2 linked regions of the Homo sapiens genome follow. The protein of the gene in region 1 purifies or fractionates together with the protein of each later gene. This does not show direct contact. Each region holds a gene or a part of one and is shown on either strand. Other genes may lie near its edges.

What was found.
Region 2: the proteins of ONECUT1 (region 1) and SERPINB13 purify together in Homo sapiens (affinity purification with mass spectrometry; 2 studies listed by BioGRID and IntAct, with this or other methods). This does not show direct contact.

Annotation. Positions count from the first base shown.
Region 1 is NC_000015.10:52,773,048-52,788,211, reverse strand, and holds part of ONECUT1 (hepatocyte nuclear factor 6), read left to right. Parts: intron 1-7,327; exon of another isoform or gene 7,328-7,616; intron 7,617-15,164. UniProt on the Homo sapiens protein: Transcriptional activator. Binds the consensus sequence 5'-DHWATTGAYTWWD-3' on a variety of gene promoters such as those of HNF3B and TTR. Important for liver genes transcription.
Region 2 is NC_000018.10:63,586,232-63,601,395, forward strand, and holds SERPINB13 (serpin B13), read left to right. Parts: upstream 1-1,111; 5' UTR 1,112-1,219; intron 1,220-2,419; 5' UTR 2,420-2,436; coding exon 2,437-2,601; intron 2,602-3,424; coding exon 3,425-3,484; coding exon of another isoform or gene 3,485-3,511; intron 3,512-6,116; coding exon 6,117-6,245; intron 6,246-6,622; coding exon 6,623-6,740; intron 6,741-7,794; exon of another isoform or gene 7,795-7,943; coding exon of another isoform or gene 7,944-8,007; intron 8,008-8,123; coding exon 8,124-8,266; intron 8,267-8,797; coding exon 8,798-8,953; intron 8,954-10,727; coding exon 10,728-11,132; 3' UTR 11,133-12,961; downstream 12,962-15,164. UniProt on the Homo sapiens protein: May play a role in the proliferation or differentiation of keratinocytes.

The sequences.
Region 1 (15,164 bases):
ATTGGGCGGTGGGTGTGTAGCACAGACGAGTTGTAAGGGTTAGGACGCTCTCTGCGCATGGAATTGGCTGTGGAAAGGAGAGGGAGGCTGACCGTCCCAAGGTCCCAGTGAGAGCTGCAAAGCAATAGCCATGTCCTGGGACCGACTCCGCTGCCGACTCCCTGAGGACTTTGCATTTTGTTTTATTATTCCTCTTCGCGATTTTCGTCTGAATCCCCGTGCGGGAGGGGGGTTTGGGGATGAGAGTGTGTAAATGACCCCCAAGTCTAGGAGCAGAGGTCTCCTGCCCGAAACCCCAAGCCCCAGGTGTTTCTGAGTTCAGCTGGAAGCTCTCCTTGGCGCAGCGCAGACACCGCGCCTGGCTCCCCGAGACCGCGGATAGGCAGAGAAGAAAGCTGAGCCCAGCCCGAACCCCACCGGGGATTTCAGGAGGATTCGGCGACCCTTGAGGGTAGAGAACATGAGGGGAGGTAGAGCTAAGGACAGCGGAGGGTGGCCTGGGTTTGATGAGATCCGGCCGGCGGTTGCCAAGTTGATTGACTCCTGGTCCATGCCCCCTCCCCCCCCACTCCCCCACCCCCCACCTCCACCTCCATCTCAGCCCAGCGCCCAGGCCTGAGCCTTGGCGAAGAGAAAAGGTAAAAGCCGGAATGAGGGTTTGTTAATTAACTGATCGTTCTCCATTAATTCGTCCCTGGAGAACGAGAGACAGTCAATCCGCTCTGAGCCGGGGGCACTGAGCCGTTTCACAGTCTAAAATCAAAGCGTGAGGCCAAAGCCCCCTCCTCCAACTCGTGCCTGCCAATGAGAAGCTGGGGGTGGCAGGTGCCGACCAGCCTGCGATTCGTGCCCCGAAGCGACCCAAAGCGTTCTTTGGGTTTGGGCGCTGCAGGCCACCGGTCCCAAAGCACCGCGCTGGCTGAGACTCTGCCCTGCCAGGTTTTCCAGCCCAGCTCTGCCTTCGTTCGCCCCAGGCAAAGTCCTCATGCAGGTTCCTGCAGCCTGCGCCCGGGAACCAGTCAGGGGAGAAGAGGCTCGCTGGGCGCCCCAGCGAATCGCTGGCCCCCGGTTTTCCACTCTCTAGCTCTTGTGCTACCGGCACCATATCTCCACCCGTGGGCTGCCCGCGAGCAACTGAGGTTCCGGAGGGAGTGGGCGAAGGGGCTGCTCCTCGTCCTGACTGCTCCGTCTCTCCAGAGCCCAAGGTAGTGCCTTTTCACACACCCACACCACCCCAGAGCCAGGCTTCAGGGCCTCTTACCCAGGCAGTGCCCGCTGAAGCCAAAGAGTGGAGCGGGGGAATGTGGGAAGAAGATAGAAATGGAGAAGGCTACCCCTCCGGGAAAACTCGGTCCCCATCCCCCACCCCCGCCCCCTGGAGGCTCTTGCTCTGGACTTCAATATCCCTCCTCCCCCCACTGCCTGCTGTCGCCCCCTGGAAGGACAGACTGACACGTTCTGTTCAGAGACGACCTCTGAGCCATGGAAACCTGGCCGCAGGAGCGCCCTCTGACCTCCAAGCGTGGAGAGCTACATAGCCGAGCTCAGGGGACGGCACTGTGGAGGGGGAGGGAGCCTGAGTGCTGGGACCCGCACGCTGGAGGCGCAAACATGGTGCCTGGCAGGTGCTTGTGGCACCCAGGAGGCTATCGAAGGAGCGCCTGCCTGGGCACCCAGCAACCTGTAGAGGTCCATGCAGCCCTCGGCCCTAGGCCCATGGCCTTTTCCTCGAAAAAGTGAAACACTGGAGAGTCCAGCAGGGCAGGCATTTGGCACCAAACACCAAGCCGACTCTGTGTCCTGAGACCCTGAGGAAGCATGTCTATTACATTTTTGTTTCCTTAACTTAAAAGGGATGGTGGAAAGGGCTAGGACTGAGGATTCTGTGTTGGTCCAGGAGGGTCTCCTGCAAGGAACCAGGAACAGTCTCTTCACAACCTATTTTTAAGTTACTGAAGAAGGAGCCATCTCATTAACATTTTCATATTTTAAAAAGAGTGGGGTTATTTTCTGAACTTTCCAAATGATCTCTAACGGGCCAAGTGCATGAGCCTTAAAATGGATTGCAGAGCGCCTTGGCCGTTCCTACGGGACATTAGTGCCTGCCCCCCACTACCAGCTCCCATATGGGGAGGTGCCCCTGGCAGCTTTCCTTGCTGTTGCGCTCAGAGACCCTCCCCAGTCTCGTTCCAACCACCTTGCGAGGTCAGGGCTCACTGAGCTCGGTTCCTTCGCTCCGCAGCGGGAGAGTGGTGGCTTCTCCACGCCCCTCTGTCCTCCAGTTGCCGGCAGCCTGTTGCAGAGGGTCAAAACCCTCTTGCACGTGGCGCTGTGTTTGGGGAGGCGCCTTCCGGTCACGAAATAACAGCGGCTGGTGGAAGAAGGGCGACAGGAGGAAATTCCCACCAAATTAACTACCTTTTAAAAATCAATATATGTTCCCTCCATGTACTACTTGCTGCTGCCCCATTAAAGAGCAGAGCGACAGGGTTCTCGCCGCGTCTCCTCCGGGATGAGGCGGGGGGTGTGGGTGGGTGGCGCGCCTCTGACGTGGGCGTCTATCAAGACCAAGATTAGTTTCCAATTAAAGATTCCAGAGGGCTTCGGCCACACAGCAGGAGCTGCCGGCTCGGAAAGAGACAGCGACACACACCCAACAGCAAGCGCAGCACCGCGGACCCAGGGGAAGGCGGCGCGCAGGCCCGAGGTTCGGGCGGGGGTGGGTGTTGGGCACTCCGACCCTGCCCTGCGGGACTTGGAGGCGAGGAAACCTCCAAACCCCGCGGGGGAGTTGGCGGCGCCCCCTTCCCGTCCGGTGTTTGCCCCAGAACGACCTAAGAAGGACCTGAGCCAAGGGGGGAGGGGTTCGGTCGGGGGGCGGCCATGAGAAAGTCTCGCCCAGCCCAACCTGGGCTGTGTTTGCCCTGAGTGGCCTTGCGGCCTGGTTGATTGATAACTGGCCCCTGCACAAGTCCATTTGCTTTTTTGTTAATATTTATCCCGGGGTGACATTTCAAATGTCCCCCTGCTTTTCTGGGCCATGGGAGTCAGGCAGGAGTGCGGGGCCCTAGGCAGAGCCCTTCAATCCTTGAAGACTTCTGGGCCGGGAGAGAAGCCAGGACTGGGCGTGTGGGACGCAGGAGCTGGAAGCGTTCCTGGGTCCAAGAGTTGGGGGAGAAGGAGTCAAGCGCAGCGGTTTCCTCGCGCTTCGCGTCTTGGCGCTGTGGGTCTGGTGTCGCGCAGCTGCTCCCAGCCCGCTGCGGCGCGAACAAAGGGCCAGCAGGGCGCGACCGACCGTGTCCGCCTCTGAGCCCGGGGCGAGGGGCGCCGCCAGCTGGGAGCGCCTCCTCCGAAGGCCTAGGATGGCCTCCTACGGAGACCAAGGAGTCCCAGAGCCCGCCAGGCCGAAAAGTGGCAGTGCATCCCGGTAGTCAACTGGGGACCCTCACACACACACACCTAGCCGACTGCAAAACCAAAAAAGGTCTCGCTCCTGCGGACAGTCACCAGAAGGCTCTGCGTGGTGCCTGTCTCACGGCCGGTGTCTGTCCCCTCGAGGGTGTAGGACCATAGTTCCCCCTGTGTAGTTCTCTCTGTGTAACGGGCATAAACCCGGGTGAGGAGAGGGAGGTGCGCTTGGGGATAAGAAGTGGGCTCGTGGCGACGACTGGAACCGCTATGGCTGGGGCAGGGGAAACCTACTTCTGGGGCTTAAGGGGGGCTGATGGCTATTGTGTGGCGACCTTGGTGTCAGCGCAGCTAGGATGCCTGCCAGAGACGAACTCCACTACCTGTTCGGAGGTATGCGGCTATCCCGTCAATGGGTGCAGCACCTATCGCCCTGGAAGCATCCGGAGAGGGATCCCGGTAGCTGGGGCGACCAGCCTGACCCAGGGCACAGCGGTTGCTAGAGACCCAGCCCCGACATCGCCGCTTACCACCGACACTTGGGTCGGACAGTGCCAACAATAGCACGGTTGTGTTGTAGCAGCAGAGGACCCAAATCCCAGGATGCGCCTCTCCTTATCTGCAAGCCTCGAGCCCTCCGCGCTCCCTGCTTCCCTCCATTCGGCTCCCTTTCTGGGGGTAGCCGGGCTGTGCTGCGGCTGCGGCGCGCGCCCCCTGCGGGCCGTCGGGGCTGGGCGACCCGCGAGCGTCCGTGGTTCAGCCCGCGGCAGCGAAGAAAGGGATGCTTGCTGCGCCTTTGTTTTTAGAACGTCGTTGTTCTAGTGAATTTCAAAACAATAACTATTTTGATAGGAAGAAAGTGTGAAGGAGGAAGAGAAGGATATCTAGAGGGTCTGTCGGGGTACCTAACAATGCCTGGGTGTTACCCAATTCATGAAAACAAAATTCTCATCTTCCGAAGTACACCTCAGCTCTAACCTCCCCAAAAAAGATGCGTACTTGGATTTTGTATCCGAAGTATGCTTTTGTTGGCGTGTTTTCATTTAAGAAAAGCGGGGTCAGCGTAGAGAAGGTGACCCTGGCGGTCCGAAGTCGGAGGTTGGAGCTGAGGGATATAATACCCGGCGGATTGGCGGTTCCTTTGTTTTGTTGTTTCCTCTTCCTGCAAACTGACCGGAGTCAGGAGGCAGCCCTGAGGCCTTGAGCTGAGAAGTCTTTGTTTCCTCTTGTGTGGGGTGGGTGAAAGGGCCTTCGGAGGCCGACTGGTCTGGAGCCCTGGCGCGGAGTCAGGACCCTGGACAGGGTCCCACCGCCCTGACGCCTGGTCCCATTTCTCTTCGCCCCGGTAGGCAGATAGAATGTCTTTGGGAAGTCATAGTAAGAAAACAAAAATTAACAGCTAAAGTTCCGAAGTTTCTTAGGGCGCTAGGCCCAGCCGGGAATATACACTGGCACACTGAGGTAATCGAAAAGATCAAACCTATCCTCGTCGATCGGGTGGTTGATCTTTTCGTCCCTCCACGCGGCTTTGTGTGAGTATCTGAGTGCACGTGCACACCTGCTTATAAAATCGGAATTCGCGTCCCTGTGGGTGTGACAGGGGTTGGATCATTAAGCTAAAACGTTCAATTCAGTCCCTTTGATCCGCGCTGGGGAAAATCTATAGTCATCTCTAATCTACGAGGTCTTTAAGGAGGTTGTTACACGAGCTGTTTTGATGTCATTATTTCCACATTCATGGCAAATTCAGCTAATCAAACAAATGCTGCTACCCCAAGTTATCAGAAGAAATCGTTCTTACAGAGCATACCAATAAAATTTATTTCTGATTTTCTTGTAAGACAGAAAATCCTCAAGTCTAATAAAGGTGGGTAATTAAGAAGGAGGCTCTCCAATATCCTGCTCCTCAGCTTGAGGCCTTGTTCCTCAAGTGACATTGCTTGTGCTCTTTGTAAAGTCCATTTATTGGAATATTTAAACACCGACTTAATATTTTAAATCAATCTAGGAGCCTTGATGGTTTGAATGAGAAATGACTAGTTTCCTTTCAGTCCCCATTAAAACAGCAGAATTTCCACACTCTTGGTAAAATTGAATGGCCCCCAACCTAGGGTAGCAACAGAAGGAAGGTGTTACTGAAGTTGTGGTTGTTAGAGGGTGCATTTCTTATAATGCTGGAGAAAACATTTAACAAATATTTATTAAATAATACTCTCATTGTGTCTCTATTTGAATAAGATGGATAAGCATCTTTGGGAGAAGAAAGCCACATTATTTCTACATAAAAAATGTCAGTCTCATAGAGTCCAGTAAAAAGAAAAATATTTCTTATGTGAATGGATTTAGTGCACAATCATAAATTCCTACCTTCTATCAATAGGTTTGTATAGGTTCTTATTTTAATACAAGTATGTTAATACTAACGAAGTTTAATTTCCTCCTGAGATAATAAGATTGGGCTAGGTGACTAGACCAATCACAAGACAATCTGATTATTTTGATACAAACATAAAAATTACTTATCACAGGGTCTTGCTATAGAAGCATCCACATATGTCTCTTCCAAGAGATGTTACGGTATCATAAAATTGTAACAAATTAATTTCTAGAAATTTTCTTTTCTTAATAGCTAATAGATGCTGGGCTTAGTACCAAGATGATGGGTTGATCTGTGCAGCAAACCACCACGGCACATGTTTACGTGTGTAAAAAACCTGCACATCCTGCACATGTACCCTGGAACTCAAAATAAAAGTTGAAGAAAAAAAGAAATTTTCTTCTCTTTTAGATGAGGCAATTTAATAAGACAACAGCTGGACAGAACTAGACCCTAAAGTACAACCAATCTCATTTGTCATAGTAACTGATAAGGAAGAAGCTTAAGTTTTTTGTGCACATTCTATTTGTTGGGTACTGTGATCGGAACATAGATGTTCTCATTGAAGACTCAACATTTATACCAGTGGTTCCCAAATCTTGCTATACATTGGAATCACTTAGAGACCTTTAAAAAAACTGATGCCTAGCTGCAGCTTCAGATATTTTGATGTAATTGGTACAGGACGTGACATGGGCATTGGATTTTTATAAACTCCCAGGTGATTTTGATGTGCAGCCAAGTTTGGGAACCATTAGTCTAAGTGGTATTTACCACTTTTTTCCCTGTTGCTCTCTTCAGTGAGGTTAAATAATTTACTTGTGATAACACCACTGGAAAACAGTGATGCCCTGAGCTCAGCTTTCCCAGTCCAAAGCCCAGAACATTTTATCCTCCATCCCATGCTTCTGTTGCCAGGACAGGTGCACCAGGTTAGTGGAGTCAGAATGTGGAAATAACTGATTCAAAAGTCTCTACATAATAAGCTCTTGAAATTAGAGAAAGTGTGTCTTTCCTTTGGGACTCTCAAAAAGAGTCACTTATGAAAACTTATTTCTTTTATACTCAAGACTTGTAAAAGAGATTTTTTATTACTCTTTTTTGAAGAAGCAGCCAGAAAATGTGAGGAAGTGCCAGAAGTAGATGTGAAACCCCAGCCTCCCATCCCTTTGTTCACTTAAACAATTATTGATGGACAAGACCTATCTCATTAGATGTGCCTGTGGGTGGGGCTGGTCCATTCGGTCCCTTGCCTTGAGGGGGGCCCAAGGGCTCAGATCTTCCCATACCTTCAGGCATTGGCATTCTGATCTGCACTTGGACAGCAATTACACTTCTTGGCTCCACATCAGTGCCTGCCTTGCTATTTCAAAGATTGCCTGTAACTCAAATTTTAGGGCTCTGCACTAAAAAGTAATAAATTGACCAAAACAGAGTATATAGGCTGGGAGTTGTCTAGAGGGCATCTTGCAATTTCTGTCAAACACTGCATGTTTCCAGTCACCATGTGTTTCTCATCTTCCTTTGCATATGCCGCCACGGGATATTCAGAATCGACGGTTTCTGAAATCACTGCTTTCGTTTTCACATCTGGTGATGATCTCATAGTCCCAAAGAGAGGTTATCGAAGGAACGCAATAAACTATGTGCTTTTTGCTTTCTTTCCTGTTGTCTTCTAAAACAGATCAATGGGGAAAATTAAATAAACAAACGAGCGAAGCGCGCCACCTAGTGACCTCTGTGCTCGCTGCAGATTCTGCGACTGAAGTGCGTGAGAGGAGTGGCTAAAGCGATTCGAGTATTGATGGAGTCACAAAAATCGTTCATTAAGGCAATTTAATCTTTGCTATTAAATGTCCTTTCAATTCATTTGGGGTAATTAAGATGCAGTTAAAGTGATTAAATTCTAATTACTTATGCTAGACAAAGACATATTTGTCACACTAATGCGGTTAACTAAGGACTCAGAAAGAAAGTTAACATTTACTTCAAATGATGCAACTGGAAAAATCAGTTCCTCTTTTCATCATTAATCCAGTGAGCTGGGTGATTATGTAATGGCACTACCAGCTCATTAAAAGGGGGAAGTGCTGATTAAAATGACTGCTAGGAGGAAAACTGGAACCAGAAGTACCTCAGTACTGTTTGGTCAGCATTCCTGCACAAAATTACTTGGTGTTCTTTCCCTCCAAGCCCCCCACCCCAGAGTAATAAACAGCTCCTGAGTTTCATCCTGACATTAAAAAAGGGCTGCCTCACAGAAAGCTTTTAGCATCTGCCTGCAGACGTTGTTAAACCAAAAGATTTGTTTAAATGGTAAAAGAGGACTTGGTGTAGAGAGGACCAGGCAGATGGGAAGGGATAGGGAGGAAGAGAATTCCTGAAGGACACAGCTCCAGAAGGAAAATTTCCACTACAGGCTTCAAAAGCCCCCTTTGTTCACACCAACACCCATCCTGTTAGGAAGCACTCCTTTTCCTCCCCAGCTCCACATTTACTGTCTGATGGATGGAGACAGATGCCTCTGCCCTAGACTTATATACCACACTCGGTTATTATGCATACTCTGGAGAGCGCTAAGTACCTCTGCTGAAGATTGGTCTCTTTTTGGCATTTTTCCACATTCGCATGTGGATTAGAAACCGTCAAGTCACGGAGGCTAGTTTGCCATATCTCCATAGATCGTTCCCAGAGTCTTAGTATAGCCTAATTATGAGTGCTCCTAAGGGGAAGATGATTTTAAATTTAATGAATTTAAAGTTTTCCTTACAAAAATGGCTTTTTAAGGAGGCACCTAGTATTTGCCTGGTGGGTATGGGGAATGATCCAAGGACAAGAATGATCAATCAGATAATTGGGGACTGTTTATCCCCCAGGAGACCAGTGTCTCTTAGGAGAGTTAAATTTGCATATTGAAACTATAATTTTGGTTTCTTTATCCCATCGAATAATATCACCCGTCTTTATAACCAAAGAAATGAAAGTTATCAAATTCATGCCACTTAAGTTAAACAAGTTTTTTTTTTAAATAAACTGGTCGGCCAGGCACGGTGGCTCACGCCTGTAGTCCCAGCACTTTGGGAGGCCGAGGCGGGCAGATCACAAGGTCAGGAGATCGAGACCATCCTGGCCAACAGGGTGAAACCCTGTCTGTACTAAAATACAAAAAAAAAATATTAGCCGGGTGTGGTGGCCTGCACCTGTAGTCCCAGCTACTCGGGAGGCTGAGGTAGGGGAATCACTTGAACCTGGGAGGCGGAGGTTGCAGTGAGCCTAGATCACACCACTGCACTCCAGCCTGGGCGACAGCGAGACTCCAGCTCAAAATAAATTAATTAATTAAATAAACTAGTCAGTTATTTGAATATTTACAGTCATTATTAATGTAATGGATCGTATTACACCATCTTCAGTTACAAAAAAAAAAAAAAGAAAACCCTCTCTGGATTAAGAATAAAGTGCCCCAGAGGAAGATTTCTGTAGTAATTAGCTCTTAGACATTGTCAAGTAATTTAACCTTTCTGGGCCTCAGTCTCAATAAATGTAGAATGAAGGATTTGGCTTTAGGGTCCCTTCCAGGTGTCACATTCTATGATTGATTGCCTTCTATGATGACTATGTATCTATCCATGGGGAAGCTTAGTTGGGGCCCTAGTCTCTTCTAAGTTTAGTGCTCTGTCTGCAGTTTCAGGTCTCAACAAAGTGTAAGCCTCAGGGGGCCAGTCCCTTGTCAGGTGGTCAGGAGGAAATAACCTATCCAGGCAGGAGCTCTGCCTTCTGGCCCCAAAGTGCTGCAGCTTGAGATTCCATTGCTTGTGTTCTAGTAAGACAAGCTGTTAGCAAGGATATGGGTCATTAGGAACTCTTAGCCACTACTGGTGGAAACGAAAGTAAATTGGCACCTTCACTACAAAAACATAGTGTCAATGACTTGGCATCATCTTCTCAACCTGGACCTACATATATCTAGCAATTCTACCCTTTGGCATATATTATAGGTAAATTCATAAATGCTCTTAGAGACATGCAAAGACTGTTCTTGGCAGCATTGTTCCTAAGAGCAGAAAAACTGAAAAAGCCTAAACGTTCACTGACAAGGAATGCATAAATAAATCATGATATATAAAAACTATTTTTAAAAAAATGAGTAATAAACATAAATTTAGAGGATAGGGGAAGGCAGGGAGATAAGAGGCAAGAACACCCTGTAGCTTCACAAGGCAACTAATGTTCTAGTTCTTTTATTGAGTGGTGGACTCATAGATGTTCATTTTGTTTTTGTGCTTCATATCTTACATATATGATACATATTGTTTGGTAGGCAGTGATTATTATTTATTTTTAACATTGAGGAGGTAGAAACATTGTTTTTGTCTGATTCCTCAACCCAAGCAATTCAGACCAAACAAACCTCAAGACATACTCTATTGTCATTTAAGCAGGTTCTAGCCCCATACTAAATATCAGCTCTCATAGGAATTACATTCAGCCATTTTTGGACGGGAGGATAAAATAAGTAAAAGAGGGAATTTCATTAAATATGGAAAAAAGAGTTAATTTTTTCACTCATTTGAGCACCTGCTGTAGCAAGTTCCGTGCTCAGGACCGGGAATGGAATGTACAACACAATTTTTCTTTGGAACTCACAGTCTAGCAGGGAAGAGAACAAATAACTTTACATGTTTTTTTGTGTGTGTGTGTGTGTGTGTGTGTGTGTGTGTGTGTGTGTTTTCCAGGAAGGAGGAGTTTAAGGTGTGATGAAGGGACAATTTTGAAGATCTGGAGGATGAGTAGGACTTGGGACAGAAATGGAGGAAGAAGTTTCCAGGAAGAGGGAACAACAGCATGCGTGGGGGCCCTGGCTAAACTCCTTTTGTAGAAGAGCTCTTAGATCAGAATTACTATGAAGCTAAAAGCTTGTTTCTTTCCCAGCACAGCTGAGTGACACAAAACATTGCCATCAATTACAAAAGCATTCTCCAAAGCTGTGGTTTTCAGTGGTAGGGAGCCATGGACTGAGGGTGTCCTATTCCTCTAGAAGAGCAAATCAGATTGGAGGGAGAGAAGGGGGGAGAATATGTGCTGCTTAAAAAGTTTCCCCGGTGATTCTAATATAAATTCAAGTGGCAAATTAGAATAATGGTATTGAGAATTTAAGGGTAGATGACTCTTATTTTTACTCCCTTTTCCTACTTACTTCTGGAATAACCTATAGCTCTGTAGCTTACTCTGTATAACTGTGTGTTTGTGTGTGTTTATAAAATCTTTTACTTCTTTTGATCTTTTTGAAATCAAAAGTTCACTCAAAACTTCAAGATCCTTAGAGGAATAATTGATTCAACATGCTCCTCCATCTAAAAAAGTTATTAATGTTCTATAGGTCCTCACTACTCAAAGTGTGGCTCCCTAAACAGCAACATCGACCTCACCTGGGAACTTGTAAGAACTGTAGACCCTCAGGTTCCACCCCACACCTACTGAACCTGAATCTGCATTTCAGCAAGACCCCCAGGAAATTCTTGTGTCCATTAAAGTCTGAGAAGCACCACTGATGGCCATGTTACATCACTCAAAAGGTCTGTTTTCCTTCATTCGCCCAAACACTGATCGGGTGCCTCCTATGTGCCAGGCACTAGGCTGAGTACAGGGGCACGAAAGAGGAATGAGGTGTTTATTGTATCCTGAAGGAGCTCACAGGGAGGAAGCATGCAGGAAAATAAATACCGACAAAGTCTCTGATCTGGGTAGAAATAAAGTTCTGTGGGAGCAGCCAGGAAAACTGGAAAGGAGACTGAAAGGAGATGACAAAGGACCTGGTGTGTTGGTGCAGCCCAAAGGAAGTTGTGACCTGTTGTGGAATGAAATGGTCAGATTTGTGCTTTTGAAAGCATGCTGGAGAGGAAGATAATGGGAGGAAAAGTCGCAAGGGACTAGCTAGAAGTGGCAATAGATTCTGAGGGTCTGATTATATGTCATTGTCAGCAAAGGTGGAGAAAATGGGTGGCAAAATTTGAGAGCTATTTCTAAAGTCGAGTAGACATGGTGGAGAGTGAAAATGGAAATGGAACAGGCTCCTTGCTTCTGGCATGGGAAGCTGGGTGCTTGGATATACCTTTAGCTGCAGAGTGGTTATGTGGATGTCAATATAAAGATGGAATGTTTCAGAATAGTTCACCCTCTCAAATACATTCCTACGATAGGTGGGCTCTCTGGCTTCTGTACAGATTTGAGGCATCCAATCAGTTAGATTGTTTCTGCCTCACCGGAACCTGTTACTTACTGAGAGAGACATGATGTGAGCACGATGCTAATGAGGTGAAGATTGTGGGTCCTTTGGGTCCAGTTTTCACTTCCCGGTGTTGGTGGGCAGTGATGGTTACTCACATTCCATCCAGCCACTTCCCTGGGTACAAGGAGCCCTGAAGAACCAGTGGAAGGGGTTAGCCCAAATCCATCCCTGCTGTTAGAGAAACAAAAGTAACTCCCCAGTAATGGTAGCTCAAGAGCTGTCTATCTATAAACAAAGAGAACAGCAGAGTAGACAGAAGCACAGACATGTAGGTGGGGCAGACAAATGTTGGAAAGTCTTGGTTTGAGTCACTTACAAATCTATCTGTGATGGAAACTAATCAGTTTAATGGCAAGCATATTTTCATAAGAAAACACATTTTACTTTCCTCCGATCTAGTTATTTTCACAGTTGTTCCATAAGCAACAGACTTTTTTAAAGAATTGTTTTTAATTAATAAATATTTTGAACATATACTAAATGCACATCATTATTTTAATTTGAACAGCATGAAAATGTATACAGAAAAAAACAAGTTTTCCTCCCAATCATATTCCCTAAGTCCCCAAGTCCCCCTCCCTTAGAAGAAACCCCTGTTACCAGTTTCTTGTATATTCTTAAGAGATAGTCTATGGCTCTTTAAGAGTGTGTGTGTGTGTGTGTGTGTGTGTGTGTGTGTGTGTGTTCCTCTTTAAAAATAATCAAGGGCCTCTCCCATCTCCCAAAAGATAACTTTCTAGGGAAAGTACTAAATGGCTCTTACTTCTTTTAATTATTTGGCCAGAAAATTGCCTCCCTAGAAGATGCTGCCCAGTGCAATTATCTGAGTAATGAAATTAAAAGAGAAGTAGTACAGGGTGACCACCCCTCTGCGTAGGTTGAAAATGCTCCCAAGTGCTTCAGTGGTGGTCCCCTTATTCTAGCTTATTCTAGCTCTTTTTTTTTTTTTTTAGACAGTCTTGCTCTGTCACCCAGGCTGGAGTGCAGTGGCGCAATCTCAGCTCACTACAACCTCCGCCTCCTGGGTTCAAGTGATTCTCCTGCCTCAGCCTCCCGAGTAGCTGGGATTACAGGTGTGTACCACTGCACCAGGCTACAATTTGTATTTTCAGTAGAGACAGAGTTTCGCCATGTTAGCCAGGCTGGTCTTGAACTCCTGACCTCAGGTGATCTGCCCACCTCAACCTCTTATTCTAGCTCTTTTATGAAAGACAATTCAATGTGTGAAAGATGTTCAAAATGCAAGCTTATAAAACATTATATCTACCATACAGTTTCCTCTTTTAAAGTAATAAATACACTCAGACACAACTACAATATCATTTTGGAGCACTACCCTCAACACAAGGGTGGAGATTTTTTCCAAAAAGTTAATTATTGTACCGCTTATATATACTTTTTTGAATTCTGCTTTTGTCATGACATAGCCTTAGTAAATTTTTTTTAACATTTGTTTGATACTTACCATGTTCAAGCACCTTGTATCTTATTTCTTAATTTATGTTTTAATTTCAATGCTTTTTTAAAAGGTAACTTCTGGCCAGGTGCGGTGGCTCACGCCTGTTATCCCAGCACTTTGGGAGGGCGAGGTGGGAGGATCACGTGAGGTCAGGATTTCAAGACCAGCCTAAGCAACATGGTGAAACCCCGTCTCTACTAAAAATACAAAATTAGCTGGGCATGGTGGCGCTTGCCTGTAGTCCCAGCTATTTGGGAGGCTGAGGCAGGAGAATCACTTGAACCCTGGAGGCGGAGGTTGCAATGAGCCAAGATCAAGCCATTGCACTCCAGCTTGGGCAACAAGAGCGAAACTCTGTCTCAAAAAATAAATAAATAAATAAATAAATAACTTCATTTCTTGTTGCAAATTATTAGTATTATATACATCCTTTGAGCTGGAGCTGCAGGGTAAAACACTAATAAAGAAAAAAAATAAAAGAATCACCCACAGCACCCCACACAGATAACCCTCTGTGTGTGTGTGTGTGTGTGTGTGTGTGTGTGTGTGTGTGTGTATCCTTCCAATCTTTTCCCTATGGGATGGTACATACTACTACTTTGTAACTTTTCAAACTAAAAAATCCCATTATTAAATTTATGGTGGAGTATTTGAAAACACATAAAAGAATAATGGAGACAATAAAAAATCTCTGGTAATTCCATCATCCCTGTCCTTTCCCAAATATATCATGAATAGCATTCATTTATTCAACATATAGATAGAGAGAGAGGATATTTGCAAGAGCCTTCCTTCTCTCTCATTATCCATTTATGATTGGAGTGGACTCAGGCATTCCTTTTTTTTCCAGTGGCTTACAATTCATTACTGTACTTAACTATTTTGGTGCTCAAATTGTCCCAGATTTCACTGACGAGAGCCCTTTCCCTCTGACTCCTGTGTCCCTATGACAATGCTTACATTTTTTTTTAACTTTCTGGCATCATAAGATGTTCCAAGCTCATTTGGTACATATTCTGCCCCAATCCTAGAATGTGCCACTTCTTTGATGAGCCCTGGTTTATCCTGGTGGGGAAACATGTTAGAGTCCAAGACAGCCTAGGCACTAAGTGTGCTCATGGCTTTAGGGTGACTTTTGGTTTTCTACCCTCTCAGACAAAGCCAGGAAACAGATACATATACATTTATTTACACACACATACAAATATGTGTATACACATCATACATACATAATATCCATGTACGCATAAACATGCTTATATACGTGCTCATGTACGTATTTCTAAAATCATTAGTTCATACCAGTACCTCCACCTCCAATTGCAATATATCCTCAGAGGATTTTTCCCTGCCTTCCCCCATTCCCTATTTATATGTCTTTTCCTGCACAGTGGGAACTCTGGTACCCAGTAATCTACCTCTCTCTCTCTCTCTTTCTCTCTCTCTGTCTCTCTCACACACACATTTACTCATTTGCTCAATCCTGTAATACATCTAAAATCATTTCAAAATTGCTTTGCCCATACCCATAAAATAAACAAACCTGCTTAAAAATGTTTTAGTTAAGATTCATTTGCAGTTCTCTCTCCCCACCCCACCTGCCATACCCACGCCCCAGCATCACTTGGGAG
Region 2 (15,164 bases), on another chromosome or scaffold:
AAGAAGATATAAATGGATAGGGATATTAAAACATAAAGCATTATGGCCGACTCAGAGATTTTATGCCATTTTAAAAAACTAACATTTCCATTTCACTGGCATCCAGGGTTCACTAAGTGTTAATTCTTTCTAAACCTTACTCAATTTGCAAGATTCTCAGTGCCTATTAAAAAGCAAATCAACTAAATGTGGCTTTGAGTTTGCTTAAAGAGCAGCAATCAAAATATTTTGAAAAAAGTAAATTGTGAGTATGGAGATTGGAACACACATGACCCATATGCCCTTCGAGCCTGCGTATCTAGGGAGGTGTTCCTCTAGGCAGAAGGAAGAGCTAAGACACCCTTCTAGGAGCTGCTGCCCAGCAACGATGGCAAATCTCCACGCCCTTTACTGAAGATTAAAGCTAAGACTAATCCAAGCACAGTTTCTTTTAATGAACTGGTAGGGCCAGTAGAAATGCTCCAGGGTTGGCAGGAAAAACTGGAATCTGGGGGTGTAATTTCCTATTGAGTTTTTTTGGTAGTGTTGTTTTCCTGAAATCAGTGAGGATATTGAGTGCTTATGAATTATTGGCATTAGACACAGTACCTGGTACATAATAGACTTGATAAATGTTTATTGAATGAATTAAAATGAGATATTTTACAATTAATGGATGGAATACTTGAGAATAATAGGTGTGTGTGTGTATGTGTGTGTGCGTGTGTGTGTGTGCGCATGCTCGCTTGTGTGTGGCTGCCTACCCAAACTTTTCTTGTTCTTTTTTCTTGTTCCTTTGTAGCAAGATAGTTTTCTTTCATTTTCTTCCTGGCATTTGGCACTCCTAAATAATGCAAATGCAAAAATAACTCTGTTACAGAGAATGACTTGTCAGGACACAGCTCTGTCCATCTGTGGTAAGTAAAGTATGCATTTAATGTATGTGTTCATCAGGCTATACACCTTTGGTTCCCAGCGTTGGCTGTACATTGTAATCACCTGCGGTGATAAAAATTCTGATGCCTGGTTTCCACTCGAGAGATGCTGACTCAGTTGGTCTGGGGTGGGGCTTGGGCATAGATTTTTTTTAAAGTTCCAAGGAGATTTTAAGGTGCACGCAAGGTGGAAAACCACTGCTGAAGCAGATGTGGAGAACTATAAATTAAGGATCCCAGCTACTTAATTGACTTATGCTTCCTAGTTCGTTGCCCAGCCACCACCGTCTCTCCAAAAACCCGAGGTAAGTTCTTATTTTGGCTCCAATTTAAGACCTCTGTATTTTGAGAACAATGATGTTTGTTGTTTGAAAGAATTACTTTTATTTTGCATAGACTTTCTGGAGGTAGTTTTATTTAATTCAGTTCCAACATGGCCATGACAATGTATCTTCTTTGACAGTAAATTAATCCATTTTATTTCTGAGTTAACCTGTAAAGGATCTCTGCAAGGAAACCTGAGGTTGAAATGAAAGCTTTGATATCAGATGTGGGATGCCTTAGCGGGGATGAGCCCTTGAGGGCAAAAGGCCCCAAAGTATGTGGGCTTTAAAAAACTTTATTTTTCATTAATCTTATTCTTGTTTTAGGATTCCTCCTAAAGCCTTTACTTACTAGTTTTAAAGTAGTTGGTAATGAAGCAAACATAAAAACAGTTCTACCTATTTATTTTTGGCAAATATTAATTGCTCTTTAAAAACTATTTTTGTGAAATGACAAAAGTAATGCAAGCTCATGTACAAGCCTAAAACAATACAGAAAAGTATAAAAAAGAAAACCCTTTCATCTCCACCTAATAATTCATGACCAGAGATATGTGGTTTCTGCTTCAGAAAAATTCAGCCCAGAGTCAAGTTTGTATGCAGTTAGGGAAAGGGGTTTAAGAGATTTAATCAATCCTGTCACTCTCTGGGCTGAATTTTGAATCAATTGAGAAATAGTATCAGATAAGGATTCAAGTCTCGGCTTAATTATTGCTAAGGTTGGATCTGAGAGCACTGTTTGAACTTGAGGCCCGTGGAGATTCTTGTGCCTACCCCCCTGCCTTATCATGGGCCCCACATCTGGACAAACTGGTGTCGCCTGGACAAGGGCTGGGTCTACCTGGGGAAGCTTCCATGAAGAGGAGGCTGTGGAGAGGCAGAGACAGGCAGGGTCAGACAGAGAGCAAGAGAATAAAGCCATTAAAACATTAACCCTGCTCCGCGGGGAAATAAGAACTGAGCACCACCGGATGACGGAAGACTCCAGTAGATTGATGGATGTCTCCCAGCAAGAGAAGGCCAAGAGAGGACGTGAGAAGCAGGCAGCAGCGACCTTTCACCAAAAGGGTGGAAATCCCTGTATTCCGGATCGATGCAAGAAGAGGAATAGAAGCAGAAAGGATTCCCCTGACACAGAGTAATTCAAATGTTCAGTTTTGATTGTTGTTCTTGCTATTCTAGGTCTCGCTAAAATCATCATGGATTCACTTGGCGCCGTCAGCACTCGACTTGGGTTTGATCTTTTCAAAGAGCTGAAGAAAACAAATGATGGCAACATCTTCTTTTCCCCTGTGGGCATCTTGACTGCAATTGGCATGGTCCTCCTGGGGACCCGAGGAGCCACCGCTTCCCAGTTGGAGGAGGTTGGGCGCAGTCAGGGGGCTTCCTTGTTTCCTATGCACAAATTCATTTGGCGGGGGGGTTGTCAGCCCTCTTGCATTATCTTAAAAATACGCTCTTCTTGACCTGTGGACCAGGAAACAGAGACTTTCAAGACAAGGAGCAATTTCAGGTCTATCAGGAAAGCCCTCTTCCTTTTCCAAATACCATCTCGCCACCTGCTCCCAGATGCTTGAAATTTTTTTGAGTAGAGACTGGTTGCGTAACCTTGTCCAAGTACTTATGGAAAAAGTGACATAATCCCCACAAGGGTAAAAATGACACATCCAAGATGAACACAGGAACACATAAGCCAATACGAGTTCCTTAGAAAAAAATTAGAGGTATTTTTAGTAAAGAAGGGGATTCACCATGTTGGCCAGGCTAGTCTTGAACTCCTGACCTCAGGTGATCCACACGCCTTGGCCTCCCAAAGTGCTGGGATTACAGGCATGAGCTTAGCTGGGTGTGGTGGCAGGTGCTTATAATCCCAGCTACTCGGAAGGCTGAGGCAGAAGAATCGCTTGAATCCAGGAACAGAGGTTTCAGTGAGCCAAGATCATGCCACTTCACTCCAACCTGGCCAAAAGAGCAAAACTCCATCACACACACACACACACACACACACACACACACACACACGAAAAATCAGAGGTAAACGCAGACCTTTTTCTGATTTTGCAAGGAGATAATGTCACCTCATATACCACCGAGGTTTCTTTCAGAAGCGTCCACTCTCCCCTGACTGATTCTGTGTGAGGTTTTCTCTTCTCTGAGCACCACAGTAATATTTTCTATCTCTTCCAGGTGTTTCACTCTGAAAAAGAGACGAAGAGCTCAAGAATAAAGGCTGAAGAAAAAGAGGTGGTAAGAATAAAGGCTGAAGGAAAAGAGGTGGGGAGATGTGTTTTACAAACTTCAGTAGAGTTGCATTTTAGGTGTGGGGTCTCTGGGGAAAAGGACTGAGAAAGGCATGAAAGCAATATTGTTGCTTTACTATTAAGCAATAATAATCACCATAGACAAATATTGTTGTAAGGATTATACAATAATAATAACCCCTTAATATTGAGAAGAGACCTTAGGTGTAATGGACAATACCGCTATGATAGAACTGGTAAAGGCTAATAGACAGAAAAGTTCCCATAGCAGAGTGGATGGGTTTTGGAGTTAAACAGACTTAGGTCCAAGTCCTGGCTCAGTCACTTAAGAGCGATGCTACTTTGGGCAAGTTATTTATCTTCTTTCAGCCTCTGTAAAGTCCGCAGTAGGGGCATCTGGCAACTGAGCCAGTGGTGGTGGTGGTAGTAGCAGTAGGTGATATTATTGCTAAACTCCACTCATATTTTTAACCCCGTGCTGATGTTGTATTTAAAAAATTATTACAGGCCCAATGACTTCCTGAGGTCTTTTCCAGCTCCAGTGTTCCTGTATTCGCCATCCAAAGGAGAGTCTACTCAAATATGGGAAAGGAATAAGCCCATTAGGTCGGGGCTAGGATCAGACGTTAGCACTCTCAGGAAGGGCACAGCTGCTCTGACAGTAGTCATAGTGCAATTCCAGACCCTCATAAAACCATGGCTCAGATCACCCAGCAATAGGAGCTGCTCATTTCACAACCCCAAAAGGCTAGGTCGTGTGGGTGGCTCAGTTGCTCCTGTGGAGGGTCAGGCTTCCTTTCAGGGTTTGCGCAACCAAGTTGGGTCATATGGCCACTGCAATGTTCCCTCAACTGAGAAGTGCAGTTGTCTTCAGAGCACATTCTTTCTCAGCCATGATAGCCCATGTAGAACCTTTGTGCAAATTAGAAAACAGCTCATTCTTTTGGATAGCTGCCCTACTCCTATGTGAAGGGCTAGATGACTGGGGTGGAAACTGAATTTCAGCTTTGTGTAAGGCAAAGCTTACACATACATGCTGTCTAGCAGTTTTGCCCATTCCCCAGAATTTTCCTGGGAGCCACAGGGGTATGAAGAGAATAGAATTACTGACTGAAAGGATATTAGCACTGGAATACATCTTAGAGGTCATCTACTCCAATCTCCTCATTTAATAGTTTGCCCAGAGACTGGCTTGGCATGTACCCGTTTGATTATTATGTAAATTCAGAGTATTTTGAATCTTGCTTTTAAAAAATGCTGATAAAATCTCAAGACATATGTACAAAAGGTATAAGGAAAAATGCAATAAACACACTTTAACCCCTCCTTTAAGTGTACAAAATAAACTATTACCAAATCAGCTGATGCCCCTTAGGCTGATGTATAACACCTTCCTTGAGCACGCCCCCATCCTCTCCTCAGAGAGGAAGTCCCACTATTGTGGATTAGGTGTTCATTATTCCCACGTATTTATTATTTCATTACATGCCATATATTTTTGTCATTCTTCTTTGGAACTTGATTATTTTTGGCTTAGCATCATGTTTATAAGATTCATCTATTTTAAGGGGATACTTATAGCTCTATTTGATTCATTTTTATAGCTATTTCCTCATTTATTTTGTTGATGGGGCCGGCCTTCCTTCCTTCCTTCCTTCCCTCCTTCCTTCCTTTTTTCTTTCCTTCCTTCCTTCCTTCCTTCCCTCCTTCCTTCCTTTTTTCTTTCCTTCCTTCCTTCCTTCTACAAACAATGCAAAAATGGCCTTTTTAATGCCAGCCTCCTAATTTGCCTGGGTGAGAGTTTATCCAGTCCCAAGCTATCCAGTATAGTAGCTACTCAAGTGGCTATTGAACACTTGCAATACATCTAGTTTGAATCCAGATGTGCTATAGGTATAAAATGCATATTATATTTTAAGAACTTAGTATGAGAAAGGAATACAAAATATTAATTTTCATGTATTATTTTTGCTGAAATATGTATCTTATATATTAATATGTAATTAATATTTATTGTATTTATATGTTGAAATAATGACATTCTAGATATGTCGTTAAGGTAACATAGAATATGAAAACTTCAATCAGAAAACTGATGGGTCCTACATAAAATATTCAGAAAATTTTTTTTTTCCCCTGGAGACAAGGATAAATCTCACTTCAGCCCAATGTGTAGTGACTCATACCATTAGGAGTCACTCTTCTTATTCACTATCTGGAAAAATTTCCAAACTTCAATAGATAAGAATCGTCCGGAGAAATCACTTACTTTCCTTAGATGCTTAGAATCTTGTGGGGAGCTAAAAACAAGCTTATTGAACATTTAGTGAGCACTTTTATTTGAGACCAAAAAAGCCCACAACTTGAGTTATAAATGCAAGATCTGTGGTGTTGGGCTGGCAGAGAAGGCTTCTCTCTGGAGCTGAGATTGGTCATAACTGACATTATCATATGACTTGGGTAAAGGCTACCTGATATCCAGGGGCCACATCAAACACAGGGATCACCCTTGAGGCTGACAAACGGAGGGAGAGACCCAGCAGCCGCATCCTCTTAGGGGAGAATCTGGGCTTGCTTTTGCCAAGATAACCTGTTGAGATTTTGTTTTAATTTTCAAGATTGAGAACACAGAAGCAGTACATCAACAATTCCAAAAGTTTTTGACTGAAATAAGCAAACTCACTAATGATTATGAACTGAACATAACCAACAGGCTGTTTGGAGAAAAAACATACCTCTTCCTTCAAGTAAGTTTGCCATGCCTACCATATCTGTGAGTGGTATTCTGGAATGGCCAAATGGCCCTGGTAGGACTATGGGTCCTGAAGTCGTGCTGCCTGGCTCTGGCCACATCCCTGTGGTGCTTTTCCATCCTGATCTACAGATATTCAGAACTGCAGGGAGTTCCTTTTTAGTCCTGGCAATCTGAACCTGATTTTTGCCTCATCCCCAGAATAGCTGCATAAAAATGTGCAGCAGGAACTCAATGTGAGATGCCCAGGGCCTTAAAATTTCTCTTACTGTATTAGTCATCCTAATGTATACATAAATTTATTTAGAGATGTTGGCAATTGATAAATTGAGTTTTTAACCTCTTTTTATTCCTTCCTTGTTTCTCCTAAAGAAATACTTAGATTATGTTGAAAAATATTATCATGCATCTCTGGAACCTGTTGATTTTGTAAATGCAGCCGATGAAAGTCGAAAGAAGATTAATTCCTGGGTTGAAAGCAAAACAAATGGTAGAGTATGGGTGGGTCATTCATTGCAAAAAAACAAAAACAAAGAAACAAACAAACAAAAAACACTTCTTGACAACCTGCTGTGAATGAAGCCCTGGACTTGTCACTGCGTGGGGTGCCATGCAGTGCACAAGCTTTGGGAAGGGACTTGAGATAGGTTTTGCAGGGTTGGAAGGGCAAGCCCAGGCCTAGGAGGTAGGGAAGGCACTGCAGATGGTGGAGCAATTTCAGCAAATGTGGAGCGGCCAAGGGGAGCCAGTGAGGGGACTGCATGAAGCCAAATGCACGGAAACGCTTGCTGGAGAACTGTTTACACATAGCCATGGATCACAATATCTTGGGGGTCCTGAAAATAGGATGATGCCTGTCTTGGGTTTACATTCTTTCCTTTATATCAGAGCCTTTCTTCCTGAGTTTTTCTCTGTCTGTGTTAAATGAGAAACACGCAGCTCTCCCATCAAGACTTGTCGTTCCCATCCACAGCTGGGGCCACCTAGTCTTCATCTTCACTTAAGCATAGTGCAGGGGTAACGACAACCTACAGCTCTCCCCACAGCAGAGGATTTGACAAGTTTCTTATCCCATTATTCCTTTCTCATCCCCTGGTATGGGAAATCCACAGAGAAATGTTAATGTGGAAATTCACCTTGGGGAGCAATAGCTGATACTTTAGTGTTAGAGTTTCAGATTCCATTTTTATACCAATTATCAGAGAGAACTTTGTTATTCAGAATGTGTTTTTTTTTTCCCCTCATGCTTGGTCTGAAGAAAGGAAATAAAAGAAACAGAAAAAATAGGATCTTTCAAAAAGTTGAACAGTATTTTTTAGAATTTATTGTGGGATGGGGTGAACTCAGAGACAAAAATATCAACTCCTTCTCCAATATAATAAGTAATCCCTTAATCTCAGGTGGTAACTATATTGAATGGTAAGCATAATAGCTAACACAGAGTGCTTATTATGTGTGAGATGGTATTCTAATAGCTTTACATGTGTTAAATCATTTGTTCCTTTCAACAACCCTATGAGGCAGATTTTATTCCTATTTTACAGATGTGGAAACTGAGGCACAGAGAGTTTAAATAACTTGCCCAAGATTCCTCAGCTGATAAGAGGCAAACTGGATGCTAACAGAGGCATCTGACCCCAGAGTCTGGACTCTTAACCATGAACCTTAATTTATCCACTGGGATAAATAGGCGATGGGCAAAATGAGAACCTCCCCGTCGATTCTGCCAGCAAACCCTTTGTCAGCAAGGCCCTCAGGTGCTGACCTGGCTGGGTTTTTAATGATCAGTCAAGTCCATCTGCATCATATTTGTCATACATATTATTTGTCATTTGGAAGATGGGTCAACCTTTTTCTGTTTCTTCATTTGCAGAAAAAATCAAGGACTTGTTCCCAGATGGCTCTATTAGTAGCTCTACCAAGCTGGTGCTGGTGAACATGGTTTATTTTAAAGGGCAATGGGACAGGGAGTTTAAGAAAGAAAATACTAAGGAAGAGAAATTTTGGATGAATAAGGTATGGCCCTTAGTTTATTTTCGTGATGTGCTTACACATGGAATGTAAAGTCTAAAGTCATGGCTGGGCGTGGTGGCTGACACCTGTAATCCCAGCACTTTGGGAGGCCAAGGTGGGTGGATCATGAGATCAAGGGATCGAGACTATCCTTGCCAACATGGTGAAACCCCGTATCTACTAAAAACATAAAAATTAGCTGGGTGTGGTGGTGCACGCCGGTAGTCCCAGCTACTTGGGAGGCTGAGGCAGGACAATTGCTTGAACCCGGGAGGCAGAGGTTGCAGTGAGCCAAGATCATGCCACTGCACTCCAGCCTGGTGACAGAGTGAGACTCCATCCCCCACCCCCCCAAAAAAATCTAAAGTCATATTTGAGCAAATGCATACTGGTAGATAGTGGATGCTCATTCTGAGACTCTGATATTGGGTTTTATTTTAGATTGAGCTAATTATTTTGATGAACTAACTTGGTTGCCTTAATGCCTTTGGTCTTATGTCCTTTGATATTGTGTGCTCTGTTAATTTGTTGCAGAGCACAAGTAAATCTGTACAGATGATGACACAGAGCCATTCCTTTAGCTTCACTTTCCTGGAGGACTTGCAGGCCAAAATTCTAGGGATTCCATATAAAAACAACGACCTAAGCATGTTTGTGCTTCTGCCCAACGACATCGATGGCCTGGAGAAGGTAAACGCTTACACCTCCTTATTCTTTCTTTCATTTCCTAAGGCTTTTTGTCTCAGGGCTTCTGAGTAGGAGCTGGTGGCCAGCAGTGTCAAATAGAAAGTGTTTCTCACTCTCCAGCAGCTACAGATGGATGTCTACTGGGGAGCATTAAATAGTATGGGTCAGGTTTATTGAGAACAACTAATCCTAGAATGTTTGGGATGAACTAAAATGAACATTTAAGATTATATGGGAGTCCTAACGATCACCCACCATTCTGAGAAATGGTTGGTATCTATGGACCCCTTTCCTGGAAAAAAGAAATCACATATGCATATATACAACCAGTTCTGCACACTGTTCAATAGGCTTTTGGAGCTTTTGAATTTCTTTCTTACACTCTTACACCATTGATTTAGTCTCATCCATTCTGTGGTTAAAAAAATTATGTGAAGGCCGGGCGTGGTGGCTCACGCCTGTAATCCCAGCACTTTAGGAGGCTGAGGCGGGCGGATCACGAGGTCAGGAGATCGAGACCATCCTGGCTAACACGGTGAAACCCCGTCTCTACTAAAAATACAAAAAATTAGCCTGGCGTGGTTGTGGGCGCCTGTAGTCCCAGCTACTCGGGAGGCTGAGACAGGAGAATGGCGTGAACCTGGGAGGTGGAGCTTGCAGTGAGCCGAGATAGCGCCACTGCACTCCGCCTGGGTGACAGAACGAGACTCTGTCTCAAAATTAAATAAATAAATAAATAAATAAATAAATAAATAAATAAATAAATAAATTGTGGCTAGTGTCCTGTATTTTGAAAATGAGGAGAGTTTTGTTTCAAATCCCTGTTCCTCTAGTGGCTTTCTGACCCTTGAAGCTTCTTAACTTCCTTGAACTTCAATACTTTCCCATCTCTGAAGAGGGCTCCATGGTGGTTAACGTGCAGCAGTGTTGGAATGATTAGAGAAACGTAGCCTAGAAGGGGTCTAGGACATAGAAAGCACTCAAATGATAACTGCTATCGTCTTATACTACCAGATGCTGTGCTACTTCTGTGAAATATTGCTAGTAGCATTTTAAGTTGGAAAATATTTTGAGACAGCAAAATAGCAATATGTCTGAGAGCTTTAAGAGTATTTCTGATTCAAAAACCCCAGTTGTGGGAATTACTCTAAAGAAATAATGCAGAAGAAAAAAGTTGCCTTTCTGAGTAAAATCAGTTATTTCGGTATTAAATACACTGGAATGCCCAGTTTGAAATTCATCGTAATTATTATTTTGTATCCTTAGTAACTATCAAATCTATCACAATGCCTGATAAAGACTAAATGTTTGTAAAGTGAATGAATAGCTAAATATTGGGAAAAATTTATCAACTTCATAAGAATATTATCTAGCTGTTTGAAGATAGGAGAGATATGCAATATTGTGAAAAAGTTTACTTTTTATCAAATAAAATGGACATTCACTGTGATTGCAACTATGTAAATATATATGCATTCAAAGACTAGGAGAGATAGTTAAAATGAAATATATACTAGGTTGATAAAATAAGAAATGACTTATTTTTAATCTTTAAAAATGTATTCAATGCTATTGGATTTCCACATATACACAGATAATTTAAACAGAGAGATATAAGACAACCGCCTGCAGTATAAAGACAACAATCTAGTGAAATAAAATTTCTACTTTTAATATTACTAAAATTAATAACTTCTGACTGACACAAATCAGTGTTACACTGTTTTAGATTTTTATTGATAATCATGCCATTCTACTCTTCTTTTTTTGAAAATAGATAATAGATAAAATAAGTCCTGAGAAATTGGTAGAGTGGACTAGTCCAGGGCATATGGAAGAAAGAAAGGTGAATCTGCACTTGCCCCGGTTTGAGGTGGAGGACGGTTACGATCTAGAGGCGGTCCTGGCTGCCATGGGGATGGGCGATGCCTTCAGTGAGCACAAAGCCGACTACTCGGGAATGTCGTCAGGCTCCGGGTTGTACGCCCAGAAGTTCCTGCACAGTTCCTTTGTGGCAGTAACTGAGGAAGGCACCGAGGCTGCAGCTGCCACCGGCATAGGCTTTACTGTCACATCCGCCCCAGGTCATGAAAATGTTCACTGCAATCATCCCTTCCTGTTCTTCATCAGGCACAATGAATCCAACAGCATCCTCTTCTTCGGCAGATTTTCTTCTCCTTAAGATGATCGTTGCCATGGCATTGCTGCTTTTAGCAAAAAACAACTACCAGTGTTACTCATATGATTATGAAAATCGTCCATTCTTTTAAATGTTGTCTCACTTGCATTTCCAGTCTTGGCCATCAAATCAATGATTTAATGACTCCAATAATGTGTGTGTTTATAACCATCCTCGAAAGTGAAATGTCCTTTTCTTTGTGCCATGCGTAAGGTGAGTCAAACCAAACCTCATTGATAATCTCCCTTTGGTTTCCTTTGAAAGTAAATTGGTATCTTGTAGTTTTGTGCACACGAAAGGAGAGAAAGTCTCTCCAGTAAAGAGTACGAACTAGTAATTTTGGGGGGTCTCTCTAATTCTGGTATTTTGACATGTTATAATACGCAAGTAAAATAAAACAATAGTTTACTCAGCTCATGTTACTATTCCCCAACAGATATTGTGGCAAATCACACATAGGAAAGAGAATTTGGGAATACAGTAGCAAAACATAAATTAAAACTCAAATGCCAGGACAAAATAAAACAATATACCAGATGGAGAGGATGCCCGTATTTTCATCTTCCATTCTAACATTATCCATTGTTAGATGCATAAGCATTTTGATATTGTGTAATAAATGTGGTATTTGAGAAGATAAATGATGTAGTTGATCAGTATTCCTCCTCTATCACCTTTTTAGACTTTGTAAGGTAAATATTTGGACTAACTTTTAGAAAAGTTTCCCTTTTTTTCTCCATTTACATTTTTCTGGTTTTTTTTTTTTTTTGAGTGAGGTACGAGTATTACCAAATGATATTTTCTGAAGATGCTTTTTGGAAAGCTCTGAATCTATACCTAATGCTCTTAATTATTGGCTTGTTTCATTTTTTTCCTCCAGTTTTTAACAAGATCACATAACTGGCTTATTTTTAACAGCTTTGTCAAACTACAATTTACATGCCGTAAAATGTACACACTGTAATTTTATAATTCATTGACTTTTAGTAAATTTCTAGCGTTATGCATCGCCACAATCCAGTTTTAGAATATTTCCATGACCCTAAGAAGTTTCCTCATGTCTATTAATATTCCCAATCCTAGGCACCACTGAGTTGTTTTCTGTCTTTATAAGTTTTTCTTTCTACATCTTATATAAATGGAATCATAATACATGTAGTATTTTGTGTCTGGCGTCTTGCACTTAGCATGGTGTTCTTGAGGTTCATCTGTTGTAGTATGTATTGATACTTAATTTTTTTATTGCCGAATACTATTCCATTGCATGGAAAAGACCTATTTTATTTCTAGGTTCACCAGTTGAGGGACATTTGGATTGTTCCCACTTCTTGGCTGTTAGGAATAATGTTGCTCTGAACATGTAAATAAAGATCTTTGTGTTCACATATGTTTTCATTTCTGTTGGGGAGATTCCTAGGCTAGAAATTGCTGGGCCATATGAAAAATCAATAGTTAGCTTTGTAAGAAACAGTCAAACTGTTTTCCAACGTGACATTTTATATTCCCACCAGGAATGTTTAAAACTAGTGTCTTCAAATCCTCACCAACATCCAGGATTGTGTCTTTATGATTATAGCCATTTTTGTAGGTACAAAGTGGCATCTCATGGTGGTTTTAATTTGCATTTCCATAATATCTAATTAGGTTGAGCTTTTTTTATGTGCTTATTGGCCATTTGTTTGACTTTGTTTGGTGAAATGTATACAAATCATTTGCTCATTTTTAATTTGGGTTGTCTGTCTTGTCTTCTCATTTTATTGAGTTAAATGAGTTCTTAATAATCTCTGGCTTACAAGTCCTTAATTTATCAAATATATGATACGTGGACATTTCCTCATAGTCTGTGGTTTCTTTTAATTTTGTTATTAGTCTTTTTAGAACATATATAATAATTTTTAAAAGATATAATTTAATACCATAAAATCTGCATATTTAAAGTACAATTCATTGGTTTTAGTGTATTCACAGAGTTGTGTAGACACCTCCACTGTCTAATTTTAGAACATTTATAACACCCCAAAAGAAATTCTATACTCATTAACAATCACTCCCCATGCCTCTCTTCCCCAACTCATAGAAATAAATATTCTGTTGTCTGTCTCTGTGAACTTGCGCATTCTGGACATTTCATATAAATGGCATCATATAACATGTGGCCTTTTGAAACATGATTCTTTCACTTTGCCTAACAATTTTAAGTTACATTCAATTTGTAGCATGAATCAATACTTCATTCCATTTTTGGCTAAGTAACATTCCATTGTATGGGTACGTTAGACTTTGTTTATTCATTAATTAGTTAACAAACATTTGTATTTGACTTTTTGGCTCTTATGAATGTTACTATGAACATTTTGTGTGGAACAAGTTTTTGTGTGGATATATATCTTCATTTCTTTTGGGTATATACCTAGGAGTGGAATTGCTGGGTCATGTATTACTAGTACCTTTGTGTTTATCGTTTTGAGGAAATACTAAATTGTTTTCCAAATCAGCCGTACCATATTACAATACCACAGCAATGCATGAGGGTTCCAATTCTCTACATCGTAGCTATACTTATTCTAGTCTTTTTAGATTTTTGCTATCCTAGTGAATGTGAATTAGTATCTCAATAGTTTTGTGGGATCTTTCATAGGGTGATTGGAGTTCAGCTTATCATTAATATTTCTTTTTTTTTTTCTTTTTTTTTTTGTGATGAGTCAATCTCTGTTGCCAGGCTGGAGTACAGTGGCGCGACCTTGGCTCACTGTAACCTCTGAGTCCTTGGTTCAAGTGATTCTCCTGCCTCAGCCTCCTGAGTAGCTGGGATTACAGGCACGTGCCACCAAGCCCAGATAATTTTTGTATTTTTGTATTTTTTTTTTAGCATAGACGGGGTTTCACCATGTTGGCCAGGATGGTCTCGATCTCCTGACCTCATGATCCGCCCACCTCGGCCTCCCAAAGTGCTGGGATAGCAGGCTTGAGCCACTGCACCCAGCCCATTAATATCTTCTAAGGTTCAGGCTTTGGTATCAAATCTGAGCATATTTCCCTAATGATTAGTCATGTTGAGCATTTTTTACTATCTCTGTTGGCCATTTTGTATGTCTTCTTTTGAGAAATGTCTATACACGTTCCTTGCCCATTTTTAAAATTAGGTTTTTTGTTTTCTTGTTATTGTTTGTTATTTTTATATTTTGGATATTAACCTTTTTTTTTTCTTCAACTTTTATTTTAAGTTCAGGGATACATGTGCAGGATGTGCAGGTTTGTTACATAGGTAAAGCATGTGCCATGGTGGTTTACCGTACAGACCATTCTATAACCTAGACACTGAGCCCAGCATCCATTAGCTATTCTTTCTCCCTGTTAGAAGTGAGAACATGTGGTATTTGGTTTTCTGTTCCTGCATTAGTTTGCTGAGGATAACAGCTTCCAGATACATCCACATCCCTGCAAAGGACATGATCTTGTTCCTTTTAATGGCTGCATAGTATTCTATGGTGTATATGTACCACATTTTCTTTATCCAGTTTATCATTGATGGATATTTAGGTGGATTTCATGTCTTTGCTATTGTGAATAGTGCAGCAATGAACATACATGTTCATGTATCTTTATAATGGAATGATTTATATTCCTTTGGGTATATACCCAGTAACGGGATTGCTGCGTCAAATGGTATTTCTGTCTCTAGATCTTTGAGGAATCGCCACACTGTCTTCCACAATGGTTAAACTAATTTACACTCCCTCCAACAGTGTAAAAGTGTTCCTTTTTCTCCACAACTTTACCAGCATCTGTTGGTTTTTGACTTTTAAATAAGAGCCATTCTGACTGGCATGAGGTGGTATCTCATTGTGGTTTTGATTTGCGTTTCTCTAATGATCAGTGATGTTGAGCTTTCTTTCATGTTTGTTAGCCACCTGTATGTCTTCTTTTGAGAAGTGTCTGTTCATGTCCTTTGCCCACTTTTTAATGGTTTTTTTTTTTCTTGTAAAGTTGTTTAAGTTCCGTGTAGGCTGTGGATATTAGACCTTTGTCAGATCG